2 linked regions of the Homo sapiens genome follow. The protein of the gene in region 2 purifies or fractionates together with the protein of the main gene of each other region. This does not show direct contact. Each region holds a gene or a part of one and is shown on either strand. Other genes may lie near its edges.

What was found.
Region 1: the proteins of MIOS (region 2) and SEC13 purify together in Homo sapiens (affinity purification with mass spectrometry; 7 studies listed by BioGRID and IntAct, with this or other methods). This does not show direct contact.

The regions. Positions count from the first base shown.
Region 1 is NC_000003.12:10,304,113-10,311,147, reverse strand, and holds part of SEC13 (protein SEC13 homolog), read left to right. Parts: intron 1-5,455; coding exon 5,456-5,589; intron 5,590-5,991; coding exon 5,992-6,115; intron 6,116-6,975; coding exon 6,976-7,035. UniProt on the Homo sapiens protein: Functions as a component of the nuclear pore complex (NPC) and the COPII coat. At the endoplasmic reticulum, SEC13 is involved in the biogenesis of COPII-coated vesicles.
Region 2 is NC_000007.14:7,604,874-7,609,457, forward strand, and holds the end of MIOS (GATOR2 complex protein MIOS), read left to right. Parts: intron 1-1,068; coding exon 1,069-1,198; intron 1,199-2,122; coding exon 2,123-2,219; 3' UTR 2,220-4,059; downstream 4,060-4,584. UniProt on the Homo sapiens protein: As a component of the GATOR2 complex, functions as an activator of the amino acid-sensing branch of the mTORC1 signaling pathway. The GATOR2 complex indirectly activates mTORC1 through the inhibition of the GATOR1 subcomplex.

The DNA of each region.
Region 1 (7,035 bases), on a different chromosome or scaffold from region 2:
ACATCTTTATTGTGTGAAAGGAAACCAGAGTACCAGGAGAGAGCCCACGCAGACACAGGGAGAACACACAGACTCCACACAGGCAGGGGCCCCCGCTGGGAGTTGTTTTTTTTTTTTTAATCTTGTCAGCATTATAATGAAATGAAATTGAGGATCAGTTGTACATAGAATGAGACAATCTGTGGTCTTTTGTGACTGGCTTCTCCTACTTACTATAATGAGTTCAAGTTTCATCCATATCATAGCGTGTATCAGCACTCCATTCCTTTTTATGGCTGGATAATACTCCATTGTGAATATAGACATTTTGTTTATCCATTCATCAGATGATGGATGTTCTCGGCCTTATGAATAATGCTGCTATGAACATTTGCAGATAAGTTTTTGCATGAACATATGTTTTTAATTCTCTTGGGTCTATACCTAGGTGTGAAATTGCTGAGTCATATGGTAATTCTGTGTTTAACTTTTTGAGGAATTGCTAAACTGTTTTGCAAAGTAACTGTACCCTTTTACATTCCCATCAGCAGTGTATGAGGGTTCTAATTTCTCCACATCCTCACTAACATATGTCTGTCATTTTGGTTACAGCTGTCCTAGTGAATGTGAGGTGGTATCTTATTGTGATTTTTTGGGTTTGTTTTGTTCTGTTTTTTTGAGACGGAGGCTTGCTCTGTCACCCAGGCTGGAGTGCAGTGACATGATCTCGGCTCACTGCAACCCCCGCCTCCCAGGTTCAAGCAATTCTCATGCCTCAGCCTCTTGAGCAGCTGGAATTACAGGCACACGCCACAACACCCGGCTAATTTTTGTATTTGTAGTAGAGACAGGGTTTCACCATTTTGCCCAGGTTGGTCTCAAACTCCTGGCCTCAAGTGATCCGCCCACCTCAGCCTCCCAAAGTGCTGGGATTACAGGTGTAAGCCACCACACCCGGCCCTTATTGTGATTTTTATTTGCATTTTGCTAATCAAAGATGATGGTGAGCATCTTCTGGGGGCCTTTGGAGAAATGACCAGGAGGGGTTTGCACTCTGTAACACCGAGTGAGTGGAAGCGGCCCACAATAAGAAAGGCTGAAGGGGCGGGAAGAAATCTGAGCTCTGTGATCCTCCAGAGCAAGCCTCTGGGACAGGGCCCCTCAGGAGGAAGAACTGCAGGAAATGAAATCACAGTTGAGCTGGATAGGGACACAGGAAAGGAAGGATGAGATGTAGACCAATGTGGGGAAGAGGAACAAAGACAGGAACTCCTGAAAGCCATCTCCCACGTTTTTTAACACCACACAGAAACAAGGGAGAGTTCTGAGCTTAGACTTTCCTGAGCCTTTCTTATCAGGAAAACTCATCTCACCTAAAAATAACAGAAAAGTATTTGAAGTGAAATTGCATACAGTTGTTATATAAGAAACAAGAATATGCAAAATAACCTCCCTGCGGACAATGAGAGCACATTAGAAAGACATGCCCACATAACCGAGCCAAGCTGTAACCTGCTATTTCAAATCAAGCCAGGTGACATTCTAACAATACAAAACAAGAGAGAATAGTGTAAATCAACTTTTTAAAAATCAGAAATAAGGTGACAGAACTCAGGAAAGAATTAGAATTAAAAATCATTTCAGAAGTAAAGAAAGACTAAGACGAAATGCAAGTGTCGATGAACACAGCAGATCCTGCCTGAAAAGGATAAACAGTGTGAAAAAGGAAACATTTCAAGAGCAAAAAAATGAAGAGGTAAAAAGGTTTTGACCAAAAGTAAAGACAGGCAGAAAGGTCAGACATACGAATACCAGGAGTCCCTGGAAAGGAAAACAGAATACCAAAAAGTAATCCAGAAAACTTTCTTAAAATTAAAAAACAAAGATTTGAAACTTGAGATTGAGAGATCATACCCCACACTTAACAATATCAGCCGGGCGCAGTGGCTCAGCCTGTAATCCCAGCACTTTGGGATGCTGAGGTGGGCGGATCACCTGAAGTCAGGAGTTTAAGACCAGCCTGACCAACATGGCGAAACCCCGTCTCTACTAAAAATACAAAAATTAGCCAGACGTGGTGGCGCACACCTGTAATCTCAGCTACTCGGAAGGCTGAGGCAAGAGAATTGCTTGAACCCGGGAGTCAGAGGTTGCAGAGAGCCAAGATCACGCCATTATAATCCAGCCTGGGCGACAAAGCAAGACTTGTCTCAAAAAAAAAAAAAAAAAAAAAAATCAAGGCCAGGCGTGATGGCTCAGCCTGTAATCCTAGCACTTTGGGAGATCGAGGTGAACTCCTGTTTGAGGCCAGGAGTTCAAGACCAACCTGGCCAACATAGTGAGACCCCGTCTCTAAAAAAAAAAAAAAAAAAAAAAATTCAACTCAGCATCACCAACAAAAAGATATAATTCTAGTAAAATTATTAGACTTTAAAGAAAATTTTGGGGGGTTCTAGAGAAAAGGAACCTTGTGACTTAAAGGGGAAAGACAATTAGATTATTGTCAGACTCTTCAATAGTAAGGATTGGTGCAGAAGAAAAAAGAATAACATGTTTAAAATACTCCAGGAAAGAAAGTGTGAGCCAAGGATTTATAACCAGGAAAATTGACTTTGAAGTTCACACAAAGACTTATACACAAAAGGTTATAGCAGCTTTAATAGCCAAAAACTGGAAATAGTCCACATGTCCATCAACAGGTAAATGATAAGTTGTGATATATCCATACTTTGGAAATACTGCGAGCAATAAAAAGAAATGACTGCAATAAAAAGAAATGACTTAACAAAATAAGATGAAGAATAAATTTCAAAATAATTATGCTGAGTGAAAAAAAGAAGAAAAAGGACACACTGTGATTCCACTGCTGTAATATCTAGGAAATGCAGCTGAGCAGGCCCATGGTCACCACGATTGGGGGCTGCAGGATGGGGAGATGGATTACCAGGGGATCCGAGGAAACTTTTGGGAATGATGGGCATGTTCCTTATCTTGATTGAGGTGATGTGATGATCCTACAGGATATATTTTTGTCAAAATTCACCAAATCATGCACTTGATATGCAGTTTATGTCAATTATACTATATCAAAGCTGTTTTTAAAATTAGCTTTTGAGTGTAAAGGATATGAACTATTATCAATATGCAAGAATTCAGGGACTATTGTTTCTAGGAGCCCTTCCTGAGAAATCTACTAGAGGATACAAGTCACACAACTAAAATGACTACAAAGACTTCAGCATAAATATATAGTTACTTGTAGAGAACTAAGACGAAATGAGGGTTAAAAGGCTGGGCCCAGGGCAGGCACAGTGGCTCACACCTGTAATCCCAGCACTTTGGGAGGCTGAGGCAGGCGGATCACCTGAGCTCAGGAGTTCAAGACCAGCCTGGCCAACATGGCAAAGCCCCATGATGTGGTTTGGCTGTGTCCCCACCCAAATCTCATTTTGAATGCCCATGTGTTGTAGGGGGTAACCAGTGGGAGTTGAGTCATGGGAGGAGGTCTTTTCCATGCTGTTCTCTTGATAGTGAATAAGTCTCACAAGATCTGATGGTTTTATGAAGGGGAGTTCACCTGCACAGGCTCTCTCTCCCTTTTTGCTGCCATCCATGTGAGATGTCACTTGCTCCTCCCTTGCCTTCTGCCATGATTGTGAGGCCTCCCCAGCTACATGGAGCTGTAAGTCCATTAAACCTCTCTTTTTTTTGTAAACTGCCCAGTCTCAGGTATGTCTTTATCAGCAGCGTGAAAATGGACTAACACACCCCGACGCTACTAAAAATACAAAAATTAGCCAGGCGTGGTGGCACACACCTGCAGTCCCAGCTACACGGGAGGCTGAGGCAGGAGAATCACTTGAACCTGGGAGGTGGAGGTTGCAGTGAGTCAAAATCGCGCCTCTGCACTCCATCCTGGGCAACAGAGCCAGACTCTGTCTCAAAAAAAAAAAAAAGGCAGTGGCTCACACCTATAATCCCAGTACTTTGGGAGTCTGAGGTGGGAGGATCACTTGAGCCTACGAAGTTTGAGGCTGCAGTGAACCATGATCTTACCAGCCTGCACTCTAGCCTGGGTGACAGTGAGACCCTGTCTCAATTTTTAAAAAAAAAAATTGTTAATAATAAATAAAGAGGAGAATCAGTCATCTTTGGAAAGTGATAGAACCAGTTCAGAAAGAATCAAGCGTTTATCCAGCCTTTCCTTTTTGACCTTGTATTAGTCTGTTTTCTCGCTGCTGGCAAAGACATACCCAAGACTGAGCAATTTACAAAGGAAAGAGGATGGAGAACTCACAGTTCCACGTAGCTGGGGAAACCTCACAGTCATGGCAGAAGGCAAGGAGGAACAAGTCACAGCTTACGTGGATGGCAGCAGGCAAAAGAGAGAGCTTGTGCAGAAAAACTCCCATTTTTAAAATCGTCAGATCTAGCGAGACTTATTCACTATCATGAGAACAGCATGGGAAAGACTTGCCCCTGTGATACAATTACCTCCTACCAGGTCCCTCCCACAACACGTGGGAATTCAAGATGAGATTTGAGTAGGGACACAGCCAAACCATATCAGACCTCTATCCCTGGGTAACTGAATAGTTAATGAGAAGAAGTGTCCCTATCTGGAGCATTCCATGGAATAAATGACAAAGAAAGGATGGAATTAGAGTATCACCATTTTACAAGCCCCAGTGAATTAAGAGAGGCCTGAGTTATTGACAGCTGTTAATATAAGAGACAATCTAACGTGCCTCCTGATGAGAGAACGCACCAGCTCTAGTCTTGCCAAAGGGATCACACCTGAGTCTGTCCAGTCTTGGCTCCAGCTGACAGTTTTCAGGAATTCAGAGGAACATATTGAACTGCATATGAAGCAGCAAAACCCAGACCGAGAGACTAGGCTCTCTTCAGCAGAAAAATTGTAAGGAAAAAAATCAGAGGAGGAATCTGCAAAGTAGGAGATGTAAAAAACATCCAAAAAAATGTTTAATGGACAAGACTAAACTATAGTATCTAGGGGTGCACATTTGGGTGATAAAATGGGGGGAAAATGGGTTAGAAGTTAGGGCAGTGGTTACTTATAGTGGAAGAGGGAGCTGTGATTAGGAAGGGCATAATGACAGGGCTTTTCAGGCAGGTGGCAGAATTCTTGTTTCTTGATCTATTACTTTATAATAAAAGATTTTTCTTAAAAAAAAGCTCCAATGTACCATTCTTTCATGTGTTTAGAAAATGTCCTGTTTCTTAAACTTGTGGGAGTTCTTAATTTCTACTTTTAGCGCACACTGCAGAAAAATGCACACACTGTTGGGATCCTTGAGGGAGAATTCTGAGCAGTGGACCCCATGATGAGTGCTTCATGTCAGCCTTCACACACACTCCAGTCCTGAGAAGCGGAGGGGAGAGGGACAGCAGGCTTGGGTCTGCAGAAGCAGTGTTCTCTTGCAAGGCAGAGTCACCATGTGTCCCATCTTTACAGATTGGCTGCAATGCCGTCAGCTGGGCCCCTGCTGTTGTACCTGGAAGCCTCATAGACCACCCATCGGGGCAGAAACCCAATTACATCAAGAGGTTTGCATCAGGTGGCTGTGACAACCTCATCAAGCTGTGGAAGTAAGTAGGGATGTGTGGCCTTCTCTTTGAGGGGACACTTCTACCCTTTACCCTACTCACCATGACTCAGCCACACTCACAAGAAACAAGGTCACCTTTCTTTCTCCCTCCTGCCAGTAAAATACTGTTTTCAATCTGTTGGAGGACATCCTTGAAAAACAACACAACACCTGTTCACCTAATTCCCAACTGTTGGAGCTGACTCTTTGGCTGTGGAAGCAGAGCATTTTCTGGAGGGTTTTTTTTACAGCTGGGGTGAAGGGAATAAAATGCCACAAACTCCATGAATGAAAGAAGAAAGATGGAATCGCTTCTCCACCCCAGGCAGAGCCTGTTGGGTTGGGGAGGAGTTGAGGTGTGGGAACGGCCCCCTGCTGATTCTCTTTCTGTCCCCACTGTTAGGGAGGAGGAGGACGGCCAGTGGAAGGAGGAGCAGAAGCTAGAAGCGCACAGTGACTGGGTTCGAGATGTGGCCTGGGCCCCCTCCATCGGCCTGCCCACCAGCACCATCGCCAGCTGCTCCCAGGTCAGCCCAGGGCCATGAGTATCCCTTGTCATTTAGTCTCGAGTCAGGCCCATCAGCTCTTAGTCTCCTTAGCAGAAAGTCCTCTGGGAAGGTAAAGGGAGAGCAACAGGCACCTTTGGCCCAGAGCACAGGGAGTCAGGTCATTGTGTGGGGAAGTCTTGGTCAGAAGCCACAAGTGGCCTGCCTCCACTGAGATGAGACAGCTACAACAGAACCGGCACCAAGAAGGAGGCGGATTCGGGATGAATTTTCCCTTCTGACCCATGTGAGACTAGGGCGCCGAGGTGCCCAGGTGCAGTTCCAAGTGTTCCCAAGCAACGATGGGGTTGGATGGGAATTATACGCTTAGCTACCAAGCCACCCTTCCCAGACAGCAAGGACGGCCAAGGGTGAGCCTTCAGTTATACACCACCACCCTAGAGGGAGCCAGCTAGGCCTTTCACATCATGGGAACCTGTTTGGTTTGGTTCTAAACTTGGGATTTTTGTGCTTTTTTACTTGTGCCTTCTCATTCTTGGAGCTTGGTTTTTGGAGAGCTCTGCCCATTCAGTTGAGAAGGTATAGACGGCCAGTGGAAGTGACTTGGCAGGCATGAGGAAAACCCCAGAGAAAATCTGAGTTAGCAATGCAGACAGAGTCCACCTCCGAAACCCGGATGAGAAAAGGAATCCGGGAGACTCTTAACCAGTGTGAAGAGACAGAAACAAAGCTGTGGACGCCCCAGAGGTCCTCGGCTCCCCTTTGAATCCCCCACCCTGTTCCTGCAGAGAGGTGCCGGGTGGCTCTAGACTGGGAGGACATCACATCACAAACGCAGGAGTCTTGACTCCACCTCCTGACTCTATCCTGTTTCTTCCTAGGATGGTCGTGTGTTCATTTGGACCTGTGATGATGCCTCAAGCAATACGTGGTCCCCTAAA
Region 2 (4,584 bases):
GTAGTGTACATATCAGATCTATATTTTATTTATCTCTTCCCCCTTTCCTTTTTGCCCTCTCATTATTAATTGTTGGTGACCCTTTCAGGAGTAATTCTAGTGTGTTTACATCTTTAATCATTGAATTACTTACACATCCTTTCACCTCATATCATTAGCAAAAACGGATATTTTTTAAAACTATTCCCGACTGCAAGATTATCCTTTTGGTCATGAAAGCGTGACCTGCAATGGTCCAAGCAAAATTTTTAACATAGTTATCGATGCATAATGTCTTTATAGATAGCAATTAAGTAAAAATATTAAGTCTAATTAAGCAATTGTTTAAGTTACACAAGTCTCATGAAGTGCATTGGGAAACTTTCTGCTTTTTCTCTTCTTTGAAAGGGCTTGTACAGATGAGAATTACCTGTCCCTTGATAGATTTTTTTTTTTTTTTGAGACAAAGTCTTGCTCCATCACCCAGCCTGGAGTGCAGCAGTGCAATCTCGGCTCCCTGCAGCCTCCAATCCCCAGATTTAAGCAATTCTTGTGCCTCAGCCTCCCAAGTAGGTGGGACTACAGGCATGTGTCACCACCCCCGGCCAATTTTTGTATTTTTAACAGAGACGGAGTTTCACCATGTTGGCCAGACTGGTCGTGAACTCCTAGCCTCAAGTGGTCTGCCCGCCTCAGCCTCCCAAAGTGCTGGGATTACAGGCATGAGCCATCACACCCAGCCCTACCTGTTCCTTGAATGTTAAGTAAAATTCACTTGTAAACTGGGCCTGGTATTTTCCTTGTGGAAAGATTTTAAACTACTGATTTGGTCTCTCCAAAGTTTTAAATTTAGATTGTTTCTTAGTGGGTTTGGATTTTTTTTTCCATTTTTATATTGGCTATTAAAAATGTAGGGGAGCTTCTGTCATTCAGTTTCGCTTCATCTAAACTAGAACCTACCATCAAAATTGCTATTTCAATATGATGTGTGATTCATATTTGGAACACAGTTTTAGAAATGCTTTTTGAAAGTAACTTTAAATAAAATATTATGATATAGTTAATGAAGATCATTTTATTTTGTCATAGGAGGAACCAAATCAGATGAAAAAGTGGACTTGAGCAAGGACAAAAAATTAGCCCAATTTAACAACTGGTTTACATGGTGTCATAATTGCAGGCACGGTGGACATGCTGGACATATGCTTAGTTGGTTCAGGTAATCAGCACATTTCTTCTTTGATAGGCTTGGAGTTATGGGGGATAACACAGATTGCTTCTAAATAGTTTGGGTTTATCTATTAGCATTTAGCCAAAGTATGAATTTTATTTTTTACTGTCACTCATGTTAACAAAGGTGGTGTGAACATGTCGTGATTAGATATCCTATGTAACCTTAAACTATAAAGGTAATACTTATGTAAGAACTAATTTAAATGTTTTGTATGAGTTAAATGTTTGAATAACATTATTTAACTTTATTCGGGGAGAGGATATGTTTACAGTTTTTACACTGAATATTCTGTAATTTACCATGCAATTGAATTACTAATGAAATGTTAAAAGAGCATATCATACCTCTGCCTCAGTTCTCTTCTAAGTAAGCTTTTTATGTAGTCACGCAATTAAGACTGTCAAGACATATTTGAATTTCATTTTGAATGGTGCCAGTGGCCCTGTGCTCCTGGTTGATACAGCATTTATACCCAGTTTGTCTTACTAGCTAATTTAAACTCTGAGCACATCCCTGTCACCTTCACAACTATAAATGAAATATCTTGCCATATATGTAGAAAGTAAAAGGTATGTGTTTCTTAACTTCTCCCTAAACTTCAGCTTGGCAGTAGTTTATAATTTGATGCTTTTGATGCTTTTTTTCTCTGGGTTTTAGTTTCTATATTTTTCCAAATGCCATTTTGAAAAGTTGCATTATAGATAGATATAAGTAAACAGGTGGGCACAGTGGTGCACACCTGTAGTCCCAGCTACTCAGGAGGCTGAGGCAGGAGGATCACTTGAGCCCAAAAGTGTGCGTACAGCCTGGGAAATATAGGGAGACCCTGTCTCTTAAAAAATAAATAAATAAATAAATGTATGTCTGTCTAATTTGGATTTTTAACTGTTATTTGACCTATTTTTTTAGGGACCATGCAGAGTGCCCTGTGTCGGCATGCACGTGTAAATGTATGCAGTTGGATACAACAGGGAATCTGGTACCTGCAGAGACTGTCCAGCCATAAAATGTTACCACCTTAAGAGAACCCTTCAAGTGTGGAGCTTTCTAGTAGGTGTCCTTCATAGCTCAGAAACATACCTCAGAACAAGCCATTCATGACTTACCTGTAATGGGAAAATAAATCATTCTATCAGATCAGCAGTTTTGATGTTTGAGTGATTTTGATATGCTTCACAGAGACAAATGCTGCCAAAATAAACATCGAAGTATAGACATGAGTTCTGTTCAGCAGGTTGAAAAGTCTGATTTAGAAAAACTTTCTAAGTTTTGGTTGAAATTATGAACACTCTAGAAGCAGAATTTCTGGAAGAGCCAAGAACAGACTTTGAGCCTATATCTTCAAAGCTGAAACTGGATATCTTTCAATAAAATATGTGCACTTTTAAAATAAAATGACTAATTCTGTGATTCAGACAATAGTTTTAAGTTCAGCTGTGCTTAGATTTCTTTCAGATTAATTTAAAATTACAGATTTTTACTTTTAGAATTGCAGAGCCCCTATCCCACACTGGAGAATATTTTTTATTACTGTCTGTTATATATGTGTCTATGTGTGTGTGTATATTTATGTGTGTATGTATAAATATGTATTTTTTAAAGGAGCCTTTTCCCTCCTTTGATTTTAAGATAAGCAATCTTTTGGCATAACATTATCGTCTTCCTAGAAAAGCCAAGATGAAGAATCTATCTTACAACTTTTTCTCTTCAGTAGAGAAAAACATGTACCATTTCAGGTGAACATACAAAATTTTCACTTTCTACCTTTTGCCTTCCAATGTCCTGATTTGTCTTCAAAGGTTTTTCTCCATATTAATTTGTCATCTTATCCTCATCACCTGAGAACATTTTACTGCATACAAAGTCTATGCAAGATTATATGTAACTAGCCATTTAGTATAATCTATGTCAGTGTTTCTGTGCTGTCAAATTCCGTCCTGATTTGGAATACCATACCTTGTTCTTTCCAAGGTAGACTAGGAAGTGTTGGGGAAATGGGGTCACTTCAGAGACCATTTTAGATGTAAGTTTTTAAATGTAAGTGTTACTGGGGCTAAGTCAGGTACTTTATTTAAAACATTTTTTTTTCTCATTTCATAGCTAGATAGTTGTAAGAGAAATACAAAGAATTTACAAGATGCTTCTCTGTCATCTGCCATATGCAGAGGGACTGAACTAGGAATTTTGTAGTTGAAGCTGTGTTCATAAAGAGTAAATCTTATTTTATAGATTTTGGAGAAATAAAACAAGAATTTTAAGAGCTTTCGTATTAGCAGTTTTGCCTTATAAAAACTAAGATTTGTCAGATTAGTTTGAGGTGTAACCTAAATATTAAAAGTAGATTAAATTTATTTTTTACCTTGAGTGTCTGATACATAAAACCCTTTTCTAGGAAAACATTGGAAGTAGTACATATTTACTCTAAATGTCTCACCTGCATGACAGTCTTTTCAAATGAAAGACATGGTAATTGCAATTTTTTTTTAAAGATTGCTATTAAGGGTACTTTTTCCAGCCTTCATTTGAGTAAATCTTAATTGATTTCATTTTATTAACATATACCCTTTACCTTTAATATTTCATTTGAAGTGTTCCTTTCAAACTTACTGTCTTAAATATGAAAGTCAGCTTTAAGTAATGTCAGACTCATATGCATTTTCATTCTCATTAGCTAAAGTAAAATGTAAAATTATCTCAAATAGTTACAAGTTTTGGAAATACAGTATAAAACATGAATGTAAAGTCTATTATGTAATATGCTTATTTGTAATCCTAATATATGAGGGTGACATTTTTAAGATTGTATGTATGTGTCAACCTCTTAAATGTTTTCTGTGAAGCCCAAACATGCAGTTTATGTCTCTGGTGTCTGTTTTGCATTTCAGTGTGCATGGACAATCAAATTATTTTCTCATTTTTATCACTAAGTCACTGGTATTTGGGTTTATAAACTCAACAAGATACTTTACCTAAACATGATCAATAGATGTGTTTATTAAAAGTGTTTTTATTATTTTTAAAAGATTGAATAAATCTGGGTTGAAGTCATTGTATCTAATCAAGAAATTATGATTCCTTTACAAATAATCCACGTGAAGTAATATTGGTGCTTTTTTTGATGACAGACTTCATACTTAATATTAGAAGTAACATTCCTTTTAGGCTCTGTTTTTCAATTCAACCCACTTTCCAGAATAGTTATTATCCTTTAAAATGGTATATTTTAAAAGTAGCTTCCCATTGTCAATGCTTCACATAGTAAGTATTTAAAAGAATGTAGTTCTTCATTTAATTAGATGACTCAATTTCAGTCATTCATTTGACTGCAAGTAGTTAAAGCATGGTCTTTGAAACATAAATTATAATCCTAG